Linked DNA regions of Homo sapiens. The gene in region 1 interacts genetically with each later gene. Each region holds a gene or a part of one and is shown in the gene's direction. Other genes may lie near its edges.

Region 1 (3,979 bases):
TTCTTTTCTTTCTTTTTTCCTGTTGCCCAGGCTGGAGTGCAGTGGAACAATTATGGCTCACTGCAGCCTTGACCTTTCTGGACCCAGGTGATCCTCCCACCTCAGTCTCCCAATTAGCTGGGACTACAGGCATGCGCCACCACACCCAGCTATAATATATATTGTATATATATTTTTTATTTATAAATATATATAAATATATATTTATATGTGTAAATTATATATATTTATATATTATAAATTATATATAAATATATATTTATATATAATATATATAATATATATTTATTTTTATATATTTTATATATATTTTTTGGGGGGGGTTGGGGGGGATGGAGTCTCACTCTGTCGCCCAGGCTAGAGTGTAGTGGCGTGATCTTGGCTCACTGCAATCTTCGCCTCCCAGGTTCAAGCGATTCTCCTGCCTCAGCTTCCCGAGTAGCTGGGACTATAGGCGCCTGCCACCACACCTGGCTAATTTTTGTATTTTTAGTAGAGATGGGGTTTCACCATATTGGCCAGGCTGGTCTTCAACTCCTGACCTTGTGATCTGCCCACCTCAACCTCCCAAAGTGCTGGGAATACAGGCATGAGCCACTGCACCCAGCCTAATCTTTGTATTTTTTTGTAGAGACCGGGTTTTGCCATGTTGCCCAGGCTAATCTCAAACTCCTGGGTTCAAGCAGTCTGCCCTCCTCAGCCTCCCAAAGTGCTGAGATTGCAGGCATGAGCCACTGTACCCAGCCTAATCTTGTTTTTCTTATGTTCTGATAATATATTCCCGTTTTTAGGGAGCAGATTAAGCGAGTAAAAGACTCGGATGATGTACCTATGGTGCTAGTGGGAAACAAGTGTGATTTGCCAACAAGGACAGTTGATACAAAACAAGCCCACGAACTGGCCAAGAGTTACGGGATTCCATTCATTGAAACCTCAGCCAAGACCAGACAGGTATGGTACAGCTTTCAGCATTTGTGCAAGAGTTTGCATCAGTTGATTAACTCTGGTAGAGATGTGATCCATATTCATATTCTTTGTTGTTATGCATTTTTTTCATTTTTATTTTTTTATTTTTTATTTTTTTTTAGGCAGAGTCTCACTCTATCTTCTAAGCTGGAGTGCAGTGGTGTGATCTCAGCTCACTGCAGCCTCTGTCTCTTGGGTTCAAGTGATTCTCCTGCCTCAGCCTCCCAAGTAGCTGGGACTACGGGCACATCATCATGCCCGGCTAATTTTTGTACTTTTAGTAGAGACAGGGTTTTACCATGTTGCCCAGGCTGGTCTCGAACTCCTGGCCTCAAGCAATCCTCCCACCTGGGCCTCCCAGAGTGCTGGGATTACAGGTGTGAGCCACCACGCCCAGCCTGTTGTTAGGCATTTTTAGTAGTGTTCTTTTTCTTAACGCTTGTTTAAACCCAAAATGAACTTACTAATATTCTGTTATGGCATGTTTACTCCTGCATTAACATCCACAAATATTTCTTGGGAAGATCCTTGACTAAAAATATTTATAAACATTAGTTATTTCTCTGTCAACACCAGCCCGTTTATGGCTTAAGCCTCCTGAATGGAGTCTTTAGTTTAATGTAGTTTTGTTCCGTGTTTCTCACATTACCCTTTTCCTTTGCATGAATGTTTATTTGGCAAAATGTGCCATTTTTATATCAGCCTGTTCTTGTGATTCAATAGGAATGTGAAATTTAGTGTTCTCTTCCTTAAATCACCATATTTTATTTTATCAGCTATTCGTTTAGTAATTGGAATCTTATGTCCACATAAAGAGATACAAATGCAAGAGAGCTTATAATTTGGATTGTGTCCGTTGAGCTAGCTCTCTCATTTTTTTTCATTTTTTCCTTTTATAGGGTGTTGAAGATGCTTTTTACACACTGGTAAGAGAAATACGCCAGTACCGAATGAAAAAACTCAACAGCAGTGATGATGGGACTCAGGGTTGTATGGGATTGCCATGTGTGGTGATGTAACAAGGTGAGCATATGGTTTCTTGGCATAATTACAAATCTTAGTATATAGTATTGGGCAATTTGGAGGAGTGCTGGTGTTATTGTCTATATGTTTTTTGAGTTTCTGCCTATCCTCTTCTGCACATTTTCCATATGACACCCTTTCTGAAAGTACTGAGGTCTAAAGTGTTTAAAACATTTGATTATTCCACAGGTATCTTTATATTTTTGGTAACATTAGAAATTATAAGACATTATTTATGAAATGTAGGCATACCCTATTCCTGGCAATGACCAGGAATTTGAAGGATCACTACTTTGAAACTAGTTAATAAGGACATGGTTTCTGTTCTTTTTTTACAGATACTTTTAAAGTTTTGTCAGAAAAGAGCCACTTTCAAGGTAGGACAAGTTTGGAAATGTATTCTCATTCCTGTTAATTTTGTATATTTGTTTTTCTTATACTCTGAATGTGTCACTTATACAAATTCTGTTTCTATTTCAGCTGCACTGACACCCTGGTCCTGACTTCCCTGGAGGAGAAGTATTCCTGTTGCTGTCTTCAGTCTCACAGAGAAGCTCCTGCTACTTCCCCAGCTCTCAGTAGTTTAGTACAATAATCTCTATTTGAGAAGTTCTCAGAATAACTACCTCCTCACTTGGCTGTCTGACCAGAGAATGCACCTCTTGTTACTCCCTGTTATTTTTCTGCCCTGGGTTCTTCCACAGCACAAACACACCTCTGCCACCCCAGGTTTTTCATCTGAAAAGCAGTTCATGTCTGAAACAGAGAACCAAACCGCAAACGTGAAATTCTATTGAAAACAGTGTCTTGAGCTCTAAAGTAGCAACTGCTGGTGATTTTTTTTTTCTTTTTACTGTTGAACTTAGAACTATGCTAATTTTTGGAGAAATGTCATAAATTACTGTTTTGCCAAGAATATAGTTATTATTGCTGTTTGGTTTGTTTATAATGTTATCGGCTCTATTCTCTAAACTGGCATCTGCTCTAGATTCATAAATACAAAAATGAATACTGAATTTTGAGTCTATCCTAGTCTTCACAACTTTGACGTAATTAAATCCAACTTTCACAGTGAAGTGCCTTTTTCCTAGAAGTGGTTTGTAGACTTCCTTTATAATATTTCAGTGGAATAGATGTCTCAAAAATCCTTATGCATGAAATGAATGTCTGAGATACGTCTGTGACTTATCTACCATTGAAGGAAAGCTATATCTATTTGAGAGCAGATGCCATTTTGTACATGTATGAAATTGGTTTTCCAGAGGCCTGTTTTGGGGCTTTCCCAGGAGAAAGATGAAACTGAAAGCACATGAATAATTTCACTTAATAATTTTTACCTAATCTCCACTTTTTTCATAGGTTACTACCTATACAATGTATGTAATTTGTTTCCCCTAGCTTACTGATAAACCTAATATTCAATGAACTTCCATTTGTATTCAAATTTGTGTCATACCAGAAAGCTCTACATTTGCAGATGTTCAAATATTGTAAAACTTTGGTGCATTGTTATTTAATAGCTGTGATCAGTGATTTTCAAACCTCAAATATAGTATATTAACAAATTACATTTTCACTGTATATCATGGTATCTTAATGATGTATATAATTGCCTTCAATCCCCTTCTCACCCCACCCTCTACAGCTTCCCCCACAGCAATAGGGGCTTGATTATTTCAGTTGAGTAAAGCATGGTGCTAATGGACCAGGGTCACAGTTTCAAAACTTGAACAATCCAGTTAGCATCACAGAGAAAGAAATTCTTCTGCATTTGCTCATTGCACCAGTAACTCCAGCTAGTAATTTTGCTAGGTAGCTGCAGTTAGCCCTGCAAGGAAAGAAGAGGTCAGTTAGCACAAACCCTTTACCATGACTGGAAAACTCAGTATCACGTATTTAAACATTTTTTTTTCTTTTAGCCATGTAGAAACTCTAAATTAAGCCAATATTCTCATTTGAGAATGAGGATGTCTCAGCTGAGAAACGTTTT
Region 2 (3,744 bases), 1.7 Mb from region 1:
TAGGGCCCTTTCACCCTATGTTACGGTTAGAGGAGGGTTTGGTCTTGTATCAGCTCTGCCACTTTCTAAAACTTGGTTATATTTCTTTTTTTCTTTGATGGAGTCTCGCTCTGTCATCCCGGTTGGAGTGCAGTGTCATGATCTTGGCTCACTGCAACCTCCACCTCCTGAGTTCAAGTGATTCTCCTGCCTCAGCCTCCCAAGTAGCTGGGATTACAGGCCCCAACCACCATGCCCGGCTAATTTTTGAATTTTTAGACCACCATTTTGGCAAGCTGGTCTCGAACTCCTGACCTCAAGTGATCCACTCACCTCAGCCTCCCAAAGTGCTGGGATTACAGGCATGAGCCACACACCCAGCTAAAACTTGGTTATATTTCAGCATGTCTAATAAAGATAGGGAAAGGAAGAATACAGACAGGCCTGCCTTAGAGATCATCATGAGCCTCAAATGAGATAAAATATATGAAAATGCTCTGTAACCTGTAAAGTACTGAACACTTAATAGCTTTTATGTGCTGGGGAAAATTCCTTCTTTGTTTTGTTTACAAAGTGATCTGCATAAGAATATCCCCTCTTGAGGTGATGGACACATGCTGGTGATGTGATGCGTGACTTTTTTTTTTTTTTTGTCCTAATTCTAGGGATGCCAAGGCCTGCGTAGTACACGGCAGTGATCTAAAGGACATGACCTCCGAGCAGCTGGATGACATTTTGAAGTACCACACTGAGATAGTGTTTGCCAGGACCTCCCCTCAGCAGAAGCTCATCATTGTGGAAGGCTGCCAAAGACAGGTCAGCCAGCACAAGGATCAGGCTGCTTTGGGCACTATTGGCTTTAGGGATTGGAGTTCCAGTGGAAACAGAGCAACGGTGATGGATGGATGCATACCTCGCTGTATTAGACTCAGTATAAATAGGCCAGTAGGAAGCTCATAGGCATAGAGAGGGTGACTTGTTAATGGTTTAGCAGTGACAGAAGCACTTTAAAGTCCAGGTGTCCACTGTGTCCCAGAGCCTGACCGCTCCGTGGAGTCATCTGATATGGGGTCCTAGTATTTGCAATAGAGATGTGAGTGGTCAGACTACAGGGCGTGCATACAGGAATGGCATTTTCTGGAGTGCCACCCACCAGAGTCATTACTTTGAGTAGCTCTTGTTAATGCTGGGGGCTATGTTTGTTGTCACTTCTCAGTTCTGTTATTTGGTGTAGGGCCTGTGTGAATACTTGCCTGTGACGGTTCTCAGGCTTCATAAATAGTCTCAATAGGAAAGGAGCAGTGTCTGTAATGAGTGCTCAGTGGGGGCATGCATCGCACTATTTCCATCGCTAGGAAAAGTGATTGGTATTAACCCGTTTTCCCTTTTCTGGGGTAGGGTGCTATCGTGGCTGTGACTGGTGACGGTGTGAATGACTCTCCAGCTTTGAAGAAAGCAGACATTGGGGTTGCTATGGGGATTGCTGGCTCAGATGTGTCCAAGCAAGCTGCTGACATGATTCTTCTGGATGACAACTTTGCCTCAATTGTGACTGGAGTAGAGGAAGGTGAGAGCTATTTAAGGTGTACACCAAGATCTTATTCAGATACTGCCCATTAGCATCCATTTCTGTATACTTCTTGGATATGTTCAGTTTCCAGTGTGCTTGTCTCATAAGCTAACAGTAAAAAATCTTGGTTTTCATAGGTCGTCTGATCTTTGATAACTTGAAGAAATCCATTGCTTATACCTTAACCAGTAACATTCCCGAGATCACCCCGTTCCTGATATTTATTATTGCAAACATTCCACTACCACTGGGGACTGTCACCATCCTCTGCATTGACTTGGGCACTGACATGGTGAGTGTCACAACAGTCACAGATCGATAGTAGTGAGGTGTGAGCTGTGTCTTCATTCACTGGCACTATGCTCCCAGCATCCATGAGGCTGGCGTTGGGAAAAGAAATTCTCAGGACCAGTATCCAGTGTGTGTCCCAATCCCGGCTTCACAGAATCAGTATTACCACTCTTCAAGGCAGCAGTTAACATTTGTTTATCAGATGGGAATCTTTATTTTTGTATACTTCACCTAAAAGATTTTTAAATGGGAGGGCAAGAATTTTATAACAAAAGGTTCACAATATTAGCTTCCTTATTTTTAGTAACTAAATTCCTTCTCCCCACCCCTTCCCAGGTTCCTGCCATCTCCCTGGCTTATGAGCAGGCTGAGAGTGACATCATGAAGAGACAGCCCAGAAATCCCAAAACAGACAAACTTGTGAATGAGCGGCTGATCAGCATGGCCTATGGGCAGATTGGTAAGCTGCAGCCTGGAGTGGGAAGCTGGCACATCTAAGGCATCTGAGGTGATGGTGTCCACCTCAGGTTGAGGTTGATTTCAGAGACTGCAAATCCAGGCGACTTTCAGGTCTAGGATGAGCCCTAACGGAGTGAGCCTGTGGAGTTTCTCTGAACTCTCTTCCATGTGAGAATACATCTGTTGCTGTTTGCCCAGTTACCTTTTGTGGAAACTGGTTTTCTATACTGAGCACCTTGGAACTGGGCTCAACTCTGCCTGAGAAATGAGGATGTCCTTCCTCACTGAGCCTTGCGGAACAGGAGGCATGGTTCTAAGGAATTGTGTGTACTGACGCACAGGCTGCTTTCCCTGGAGATACACACTTATCTGTCACTCACTTGGATGGAGTTAGGCATTGGAGAAAGTATATGTGTTTGAGAGTTTGGCTGGTAGGTCACCACCAAAGGGTGATCCTCCATCCACCTCACACTGGACTTCTGCCCCCACAGTGCAGCATGACTAGCTAACAGGTGATCCAGGTGGTGGGCAATCAGCATGCCATTTGTTTTTAAATCCTCTGCCTAGGGTTCCTTCAAGAGAACCTGGCAAAGCCACCATGGATGTCTTATTCTCCTGGATTAATGGGTCACATAACTGTGAACGCTTGGATAAAGAAGAACAGATTAGATAGAATATTGTGGAAATTATGGCAAAGATTCATTAGACAGTTGTTGGCAACAAAGTAATTGGCTGGTGGCCCATCCTGACCTTCTCCAAGGAGGCCTGCTTTTGAGAGGAAGGAAGACTAGGTCTCTGGTGGTTTAGGATGAAACCCTGCCCTGAGGAACTTGGAGCAGCGTGGTTAAATTGGATGCCAGGGGGAGGAGGGTCCTGAAGGTGGGGAGGAGAGTCAGAAAGTGCCACAGTGGCTAGAAAAATGGCAGCATGTAGGAATTTTGAAAGATGGAAAAGAAGTTATCATTTGTCAGAGATTAAAAAGTAGGGAAGTGGATTTCCCCTAAAGGTCATACCCTTAGAAGCAGCTGGTCAAGTAACAGGTGGGCATTTTGAGAGCAAGGCACATGTGTCTTTGTGTAGGCTCCAAAAAGTGACTCAAAAAGCAGAGGGCCCTGAGATTGGAGTGTATGCCTGGGGTCCTCCATCCCATCCCTCATAGCCTGTGAGTGACCAGGCAATTCTTTCCTGTGCTTTTATCAACCAGGGGGAAACACTCCTCCATATGTGCTCTCCCAGGCCTGCTGCAGTAATCAGCTGAAGGCTATACAGGTACCCTTGTGTGTGAGGTTCTAGTAATTGGGTTGTTTTCCCAACTTAGGAATGATCCAGGCCCTGGGAGGCTTCTTTACTTACTTTGTGATTCTGGCTGAGAACGGCTTCCTCCCAATTCACCTGTTGGGCCTCCGAGTGGACTGGGATGACCGCTGGATCAACGATGTGGAAGA
Region 3 (3,744 bases), on another chromosome or scaffold:
CTCTGTAGGCCCTAGAAGCCTTCTCGCACTTAGCACTAGTCGACCGTCACTTCTGGCTCAGCATACACTGTGGTCTGGCTGCTGCTGCCAGATTCCAGTGCACCGTCGGTGACTCCTGCAATGATGTTATCAACATGGAGCTCCACTACAAATACCTGGCTAACAGTTGTCCTCACATCTCCTCTGTTGTGTGTGCTTTGTGGCAGGTACTTCAAGCGTAGCGAGGGCCTGGAGCGCCACCTTCGACGAGCTGATAGGCAGACCCATCGGGGAGTTCTCACGGACACACATGACTCTGAACGCCCCCGGCGTGCTGGCTGAAAACCCCGACATATTCGCAGTGATCATAATTCTCATCTTGACAGGTAAAGCCCACACTTAAAAAGAGATCGGGTCAGAGTGATGGGCAAAGGTTTGGTGAGAGGCTCCTGTTAAGTTCCTTTCTTTACTTATCTCTTTAACCATAACCCCCATTTCTTTTTGTTTTGTTTTTGTACTGCATGCAGGCATCTTTATTTGTTCCTGTCTTCATTGCTTCTTATAGATTCAGATAGGGCCGGCCTGCTTCATAGCTGTTGAATTGTGTGCCATTTCATTAAAAGAGAATCTTAGGTGTTTAGCCTAGCTGTTTGTGGAATAAGATTTTGTCTGCACTGCAGGCTTTTTGTGTGAGTGTCCTGGGAATAAAAGTTCTTTTGACTCAGTGGATGACCATTTGGAAAGCAAAACTGTCATTCATCAGCCAGGAAAATGTGGAGGAATGAGCTCCGTCTGGAACACTAATGTGTGCCTGGGGCGTCTGAAGATGACTTGGATGGTTTTTACACCTAACAACCATCAAAACACCCTTTCAGTAAATAAGTTTCATGACAGAGTTGTGGTTACAGAATTTGAAAAATCCCAGAGACTGCCTGAACACAGCTGATGGCAACTTCTTGCTAGTGACATTTGTGCGTGTCTTGGCCAGTGCAGCGCGAGTTTTGCTCTGTGGGGCTCCATAAACATGAAGCTGAAATGCAGATAAATTCTCATTTGGGGTTAGAAAATCTTGGATGAGTTTTAAAAATGACATGCCTTATTTTACACACCACATAATTGAAATAACTTCACTCAGGCTGGTCTCAGCAGTATTTCTGGTCCAGCTGGCAGAAACATGCATCAGAAAGTAAGTCTGCACTAGTGAGATTTCATTTTAATAAACCTGAGAGGGAGGGACACTAAAGAAACAATATATTGTTGTTTGTTGAGGTGTTCTCCCTGTGATTAATTACACAATTCTCTTCTAACATCTGTACTTTATAATTCAATCTCAAAAGTACAGCAGTTTTTATTTTATTTTATTTTATTTTATATTTGAGACAGAGTCTTGTTCTGTCACCCAGGCTGGAGTGCAGTTGCGCGATCTTGGCTCACTGCAACCTCTGCCTCCTGGGTTCAAGCGATTCTCACACCTCAGCCTCCCCAGTAGCTGCGATTACAGACACGCACCACCACACCCAGTTAATCTTTTATATTTTTAGTAGAGGTAAGGTTTTGCCATATTGGCCAGGCTGGTCTGGAACTCCTGACCTCAAAAGATCTGCCTGCTTCCCAAAGTATTGGGATTACAGGCGTGAGCGACCGCACCTAGCCAATTTTTATTTTAAAACGATGAGAGGCGTCCATGGCAGAGCAGTGGTCTCAAATCCTGGCTGTGTTCGAGTGGTACCAACCCCTTCTGTGCCACTTTTCTTGCCCAGCAGAGAGTTCAGCTATGGAAGTACCCGAATGACCTCTTCACCCTAAGGTGGTGCTGGGGCATGTGCCTCAAAGGCAGTGCTGTCAGAGGTTCCTGGGCATCTTTATTACTTATAGTTTTCTTTAAAAAAAAAACGTGAGTTTGCAAGCTAGAGCTAGCCTAGCTCAGATGTTATTTTATATGCACTGAGTCCAACGAAGAACCATGTGTGTTAGTGGTTCCAGAACCATAGCTAGTTGTTATTGTTAATATCACTAACATCCCAAAGTCAACCAGAATAATTTCCTCTTCTGAAAAATGTCCATTCTCCCAGGAAACTATGCAAAGTCTTTCTTCCTGGAATTGTTCCTAGAGGTTGTTTCCCAGCAACGCATCCTTTTAGTGAGAGGGAGCGGCTTGGTGTGCGGGTCCAGGCTTTCCCCTCCCTATGAGAGGGGCTCATGCTCCAGATCTCTGCAGTTCTCGGGTGCCCCTTGGGTGGGCTTCTCAGTTCCCAAGGGTATCTGGAGGTCACCTAGGAGGGCCTGGGAAGCACCCACAACCTTGGTGATTTAAACCCCTGATCCCCGCCCCCAGAAAGATAATTAATCCACCCCATTCCCAGAGGCTCACAGAGGTCTGCAGAGGCTCGATGCACTTGGATTCTTTTTCAGTCGCCTTCTTATCCCCATCCAGGAAGGACCTTCCCAGTTTGTGGTTAACACTCAGACAAAGTTTTGTGTCTATGCACTTTTTCAGGACTTTTAACTCTTGGTGTGAAAGAGTCGGCCATGGTCAACAAAATATTCACTTGTATTAACGTCCTGGTCCTGGGCTTCATAATGGTGTCAGGATTTGTGAAAGGATCGGTTAAAAACTGGCAGCTCACGGAGGAGGATTTTGGGAACACATCAGGCCGTCTCTGTTTGAACAAGTGAGTTGCTGCTTCTGACCATTTTTCTTAGTTGACATTTAATGACATAGATTGTATGGGGGATATAACTGGCTAGGATGGCATGTGCTTTTAAGAAAACATTATTTGAGGATATTTTGTTAATTGTTTTGTGTTTTTGCAGTGAAGTAGCTGAGGGTATTTTGTATGTATCAAGTTTGTGTGAAGGTTTATTCCCCTGAAATGGAAAGACTATTGTATGACAAGAAAGACTGAGGAAAAGAAAATCATCACCCTAATTCCAAATTGTGTATCATTCAGGATTCTTGTCAGACTCATTAAATGATCCCTCTTTCCCCAGATTCTGTTTGATGGCCAACTTTGGAATTTTGTGTTCAGAAAAGATTTTTCTCTGCAGTGCCGTGGTGACCTCACTTCACCTTTAAATACCTTCCTATTAGATTAATAATGTAGAGGGAAGAGAAATAGGTGAAACTATTTTTGAAGGTTTTCAGAATGACTGAAGTGTCAGAATGTGAGCACAATAGTCTTTCGCCGACATTTGACTTGTGCTGCTCAAGCCCTGGCGACAGTGGCCCCATCACCCTCATGTCTCTGACACAGACATCCGGAACTGGAGGTGACAGCTCCACCCTGTGCCATCTCAGGTCTCTCGCCCAGCCCTCATTGAAAGCTCAGATAACCTAGGAAAAAAAAGCCAAACAGTCATATCTTTTTTATCTTTGTTGTCAGATCTCCATGTAATTCTTTAGGTCTCAGGATGGACAATGGGGACTTGGATTTTGTGTGTGATTCTTCATTAAGACTGAAGGTTGAAACTGCTATGATAAAGAGACCCCCTCCAACTGCCACAATGGAGTGTGGCTTTAAAGAAGAGATGTTTCCAGTCCTGAAGTGAGCAGTCCGCGTTGGCTGGCCAGCTTTGCCACAGGCCTCTGTGGACCTAGACATCTTCTGTCTTGCTCCATCTTCCCCCAGGACATTGTCCTCATCTGCCTGGTCAGAGCTGGCTGTAGGCACGAGCATGACCCAGCTCTTCCAGAAGGGAAAAGAGAGCGTAGAGGAGAGTGCTCAGGTCTGTTCAGGACAGACCAGAAGACACACAGACATTCCA
Region 4 (3,744 bases), on another chromosome or scaffold:
CAGTGTGAGGATTCCACCAGCTTTTTCACCATGAAGGAGACAGACCGGGAGGCCGTTGCGACAGCAGTGCAAAGGGTTGCTGGGATGCTCCAGCGCCCGGACCAGCTGGACAAGGTGGAGCAGTATCGCAGGAGAGAAGCGCGGAAGAAGGCCTCCGTGGAGGCCAGATTGAAGGTGAGGCCACCTGCCCCACTCCCAGGATCTGTCTTGGGCTTCAGGTTCTTGCTTGACATCACCATGATGATTTTGCTAAACTAGCCTTTATGGTAATGTGCAAGGAGGCAGAGCTGGACTTTCTTGAGCAGTTACTTTCAGCAGTGTATTACCACTCAGTAGCTTTGCTTAGAAGACAGTGGGAATGGTGAAAACACCAAAGGAACAAGCTTTTAAACACCCTGAGGCCGGGTGCGGTGACTCATGCCTGTAATCCCAGCACCTCGGGGAGGCCGAGGCAGGCGGATCACCTGAGGTCAGGAGTTCAAGACCAGCCTGGTCAACATGGTGAAACCCTGTCTCTATGAAAATACAAAAATTAGCCAGGCATGATGGTTGACGCCTGTAATCCCAGCTACTTGGGAGGCTGAGGCAAGAGAATCGCTTGAACCCAGGAGGCAGAGGTTGCGGTGAGCCGAGATGGTGCCATTGCATTCCAGCCTGGGCAACAGAGTGAGACTCTGTCTCAAAAAGAAAAAAAAAACACAGAAACAAAAACAACACCCTGAAAGTGTCTATTAAGTTTTTAAACAATACTGGAGGAAGGAGAAGTAGTCTTATTTAAAGCTCTTCTACAGAGCACCACTAGAGGGCATTTTGTTCAGATTGTTTTAACTCACATTTGACAGAGAGCGGATCTGAAGCTCAGGTGCCGATTCTGTCCTGTGGGTCAGCCGTCCTGGGGCCAAGTGTGGTGCTGGCTGAACAGCAGGAACTCCCCCACCCCAAGCCAGTGAAGTCCTGACCGTTCTCTCTGCCTAGACAAGACCTTTTAGGAACCTAGGATGCCTGGGAGAGCATGGGTGACATCCTTCTGAAGGTACCGTAGCAGGCCACGGCCCAGGGCAGACCCGTGGTAGTGTCCAGGATCACCAGGTGTGAGGCTAGATGAGGAGTGTCCTGACCTTTTCTCATCAAGGCTTTAAAATGCATCATTGTTCTGTTCCCAGGCAGCAATGAAGAAAAAGGTACACTGTGAATCAATTAAATCCTTGTTGATTTTATTTTCTTTTCTGGGTATTGACTGTTTCCTGCTACTCAGTGGCTCTTTCCTGAACTTGACCCTCCTGGGGAAGATTTGTTCTTCAGGAGGCAGCGCATGGCTATCATTGGCTCTGCTCACCCGTGTGGCGTCTCTCTTTAGGCCGCCATCCAGTCACAGTTGGACGGGGTGCGCACAGGCCTCAGCCAGCTCCACAACGCCCTGAATGACGTCAAAGACATCCAGCAGTCGCTGGCAGACGTCAGCAAGGACTGGAGGCAGAGCATCAACACCATTGAGAGCCTCAAGGACGTCAAAGACGCCGTGGTGCAGCACAGCCAGCTCGCCGCAGCCGTGGAGAACCTCAAGAACATCTTCTCAGGTACCAGCCAGACGCCGAGGCACTTGCCCCCACTCACGCTGTCTTTGCATGACTCACTGAGTGCTCTGTGTGCAGTGTGCTTTGCAGCCCGCACTGTAGACCTGTAGACGGTAAGTGTGATTCTTGTCTGCTCAGCGTCTTTTTTTGAACGTGGATGGAAGTGATCAGCTGAGCATGTAAAGGCTAGGAGAAGGCTTGTAGTTCAGTGTCAGGACAGAGGCCCAGAAGCGGGCTGCCCAGCAAATGCAGTGTGGAGGGATTCCCTGGCTGAGTGTCGTTCCCTTGCTTGCGATGTGGCTGTTAGACTCTGTGAGTGCAGAAGAATGAAGACGCCGTGGCCCATGCTTAAAAGGAGCTGCAGGAGAAGCCACCCTGTGCATGGGACAGAGCAAGCAGATCCCAGAGCAGAAGGGTTGAGGCGAGCAGCAGCTCCCAGGCAGGAGGAGAAGCGTGTGTGCACAGGCCAGGGCAGAGGCGGGGCTGAGCGCCGTGGGGGAGTGACCCTTTCAGTCTTCTCCCTGAATGCCTCAGTTAGAAGGATGCCAAGGGCCCTGTAACCTGTCCCTGAACGGTGCCAGCTGGCCCTGGGTGGTGGCTCCCAGCATTTGTGTTCACAGTCTCCTCCTGCTTGCTGTGACAGGAGCTGCTTCCACAGCCTCATCCCTCCCCTTGGTCCCCGCTCTGTGTCAAGGTCAGCAGCATCCTTCCAGTCCCCAACTCAGAAGCCTTGGCAGGGTCTGATTCCTTCCCTTTCTTTGTTCCTGTCTCTGGCCTCTTGGCAAGTTCTTCCTGTTCCTCTACCAGACGTCTCTGCCCTGATGTCTGTATGACACTTCCCCATCCCCAGCCGTCACGTGCCCCAGCTCACCCTTCACAGTGGCTGTGCTGCATCATCTGTGACGCTGCTCGGCTCCTGAGGCCACGTGTGAATTGGCGCGGTTCTCCCCAGCTGCCCACAGCGCACCTTGGTAATCCGTGTCCCGTCCACCCTGTCCTCTCTGCCCTCCTCTCGTGCTTGCGGCTGCAGCATTGCCGAGCACCTTGTCCCGTTGCTTTGTGTGTGCCCTTCTTCCAGGGCATGATCCGTAGGGTCACATGTGTGGCTGCAGTCCGTGTCTCTTTGTGCATGCCCAACACGAACGCCACTGTGCTGCCAACTCAGAAAGCAGCTCTTCTTGGTGACTGTGGGCCGCCTGGAACAGGAATAAAGTCCTCTCGACGGAGTCTCCTTGGTGATGCTCAGCTGGCAGCTTTCTAGTTAATTTCCTCTTATTTCGTATTGGCTGGCTACATTTCCTTCCGGTCTTTTAAACTAATGCCTGATGACCAAAAAGGTGCATTACTGGAATTAGTTTATCCACAGCAGTTGAAAATAATTTCCTTTCCTTGGTGAACAAATGAGCCTGCGTGGTATGCATGTTTTTTGTTACGGATAAATTTTCATTGAGAAGATTGGTTTGGTTGCCTTCAGACTTGTCTCATTGCCTATAACTCAGCAATGCTGTGTACACAGCTCCCCTCCCCCATTTTTTCTTCTTCTAAAATGCATATGTACAGTTTGCCGTCTTAACCATTTTTAAGTGTACAGTTGGGGACTATTAAGAACATTCATATTGTTGTGCAACCATTGCCACATCCGTCTTCAGAACTCTTTTCATCTTGCAGACATGAAAATCTGTACCCATTAAACACTGACTTCGCACCCTCTGCCCCAGCTCCTGGTCACCACCATTCTGCCTTCTGTCTCTGTGAATTGGATGACTCTGAAGACCTCATAGAAGTGGCATCACACATTATCTGTCTTTCTGTGACATGCTTATTTCACTCAGCATGATGTCCTCAGGGGTCTTCTATGCTGTGGTATTGTAGAATTTCCTTCACTTTTAAGGCTGAATAATATTCCATTGTATGGATGGACCACATTTTGCTTATCCGTTTGTCTGTTGGTGGACATTTGAATTGCTTCCACGTTTTAGCTATTGTGAATAATGCTGTAGTGAACATGGGTGTACAGATGTTTTACTTTTATTTCTTTCTGGTATATACACACAAGTGTAATTGCTGGACCATGTGGTAATTTATGTTTAAATCTTTGAGCAGCTGCCAGACTGTTTCCTCCGGTGGCTGCAGCATTTTCCACCATGAGTGTGTGAGGTTTCTGATTCGT

The links.
Region 2: changes in NRAS (region 1) and ATP1A1 together harm fitness more than expected from each alone (negative genetic interaction), as found in Homo sapiens cells (one study listed by BioGRID).
Region 3: changes in NRAS (region 1) and SLC7A1 together harm fitness more than expected from each alone (negative genetic interaction), as found in Homo sapiens cells (one study listed by BioGRID).
Region 4: changes in NRAS (region 1) and EXOC3 together harm fitness more than expected from each alone (negative genetic interaction), as found in Homo sapiens cells (one study listed by BioGRID).

What each region holds. Positions count from the first base shown.
Region 1 is NC_000001.11:114,706,541-114,710,519, reverse strand, and holds part of NRAS (GTPase NRas), read left to right. Parts: intron 1-791; coding exon 792-951; intron 952-1,865; coding exon 1,866-1,985; 3' UTR 1,986-1,989; intron 1,990-2,327; 3' UTR 2,328-2,366; intron 2,367-2,469; 3' UTR 2,470-3,979. UniProt on the Homo sapiens protein: Ras proteins bind GDP/GTP and possess intrinsic GTPase activity.
Region 2 is NC_000001.11:116,397,244-116,400,987, forward strand, and holds part of ATP1A1 (sodium/potassium-transporting ATPase subunit alpha-1), read left to right. Parts: intron 1-644; coding exon 645-795; intron 796-1,377; coding exon 1,378-1,546; intron 1,547-1,686; coding exon 1,687-1,841; exon of another isoform or gene 1,842-2,071; intron 2,072-2,176; coding exon 2,177-2,300; intron 2,301-3,617; coding exon 3,618-3,744. UniProt on the Homo sapiens protein: This is the catalytic component of the active enzyme, which catalyzes the hydrolysis of ATP coupled with the exchange of sodium and potassium ions across the plasma membrane.
Region 3 is NC_000013.11:29,529,445-29,533,188, reverse strand, and holds part of SLC7A1 (high affinity cationic amino acid transporter 1), read left to right. Parts: intron 1-206; coding exon 207-365; intron 366-2,476; coding exon 2,477-2,651; intron 2,652-3,744. UniProt on the Homo sapiens protein: High-affinity, low capacity permease involved in the transport of the cationic amino acids (arginine, lysine and ornithine) in non-hepatic tissues.
Region 4 is NC_000005.10:446,176-449,919, forward strand, and holds part of EXOC3 (exocyst complex component 3), read left to right. Parts: 5' UTR 1-30; coding exon 31-174; intron 175-645; exon of another isoform or gene 646-1,033; intron 1,034-1,163; exon of another isoform or gene 1,164-1,217; intron 1,218-1,357; coding exon 1,358-1,577; intron 1,578-3,744. UniProt on the Homo sapiens protein: Component of the exocyst complex involved in the docking of exocytic vesicles with fusion sites on the plasma membrane.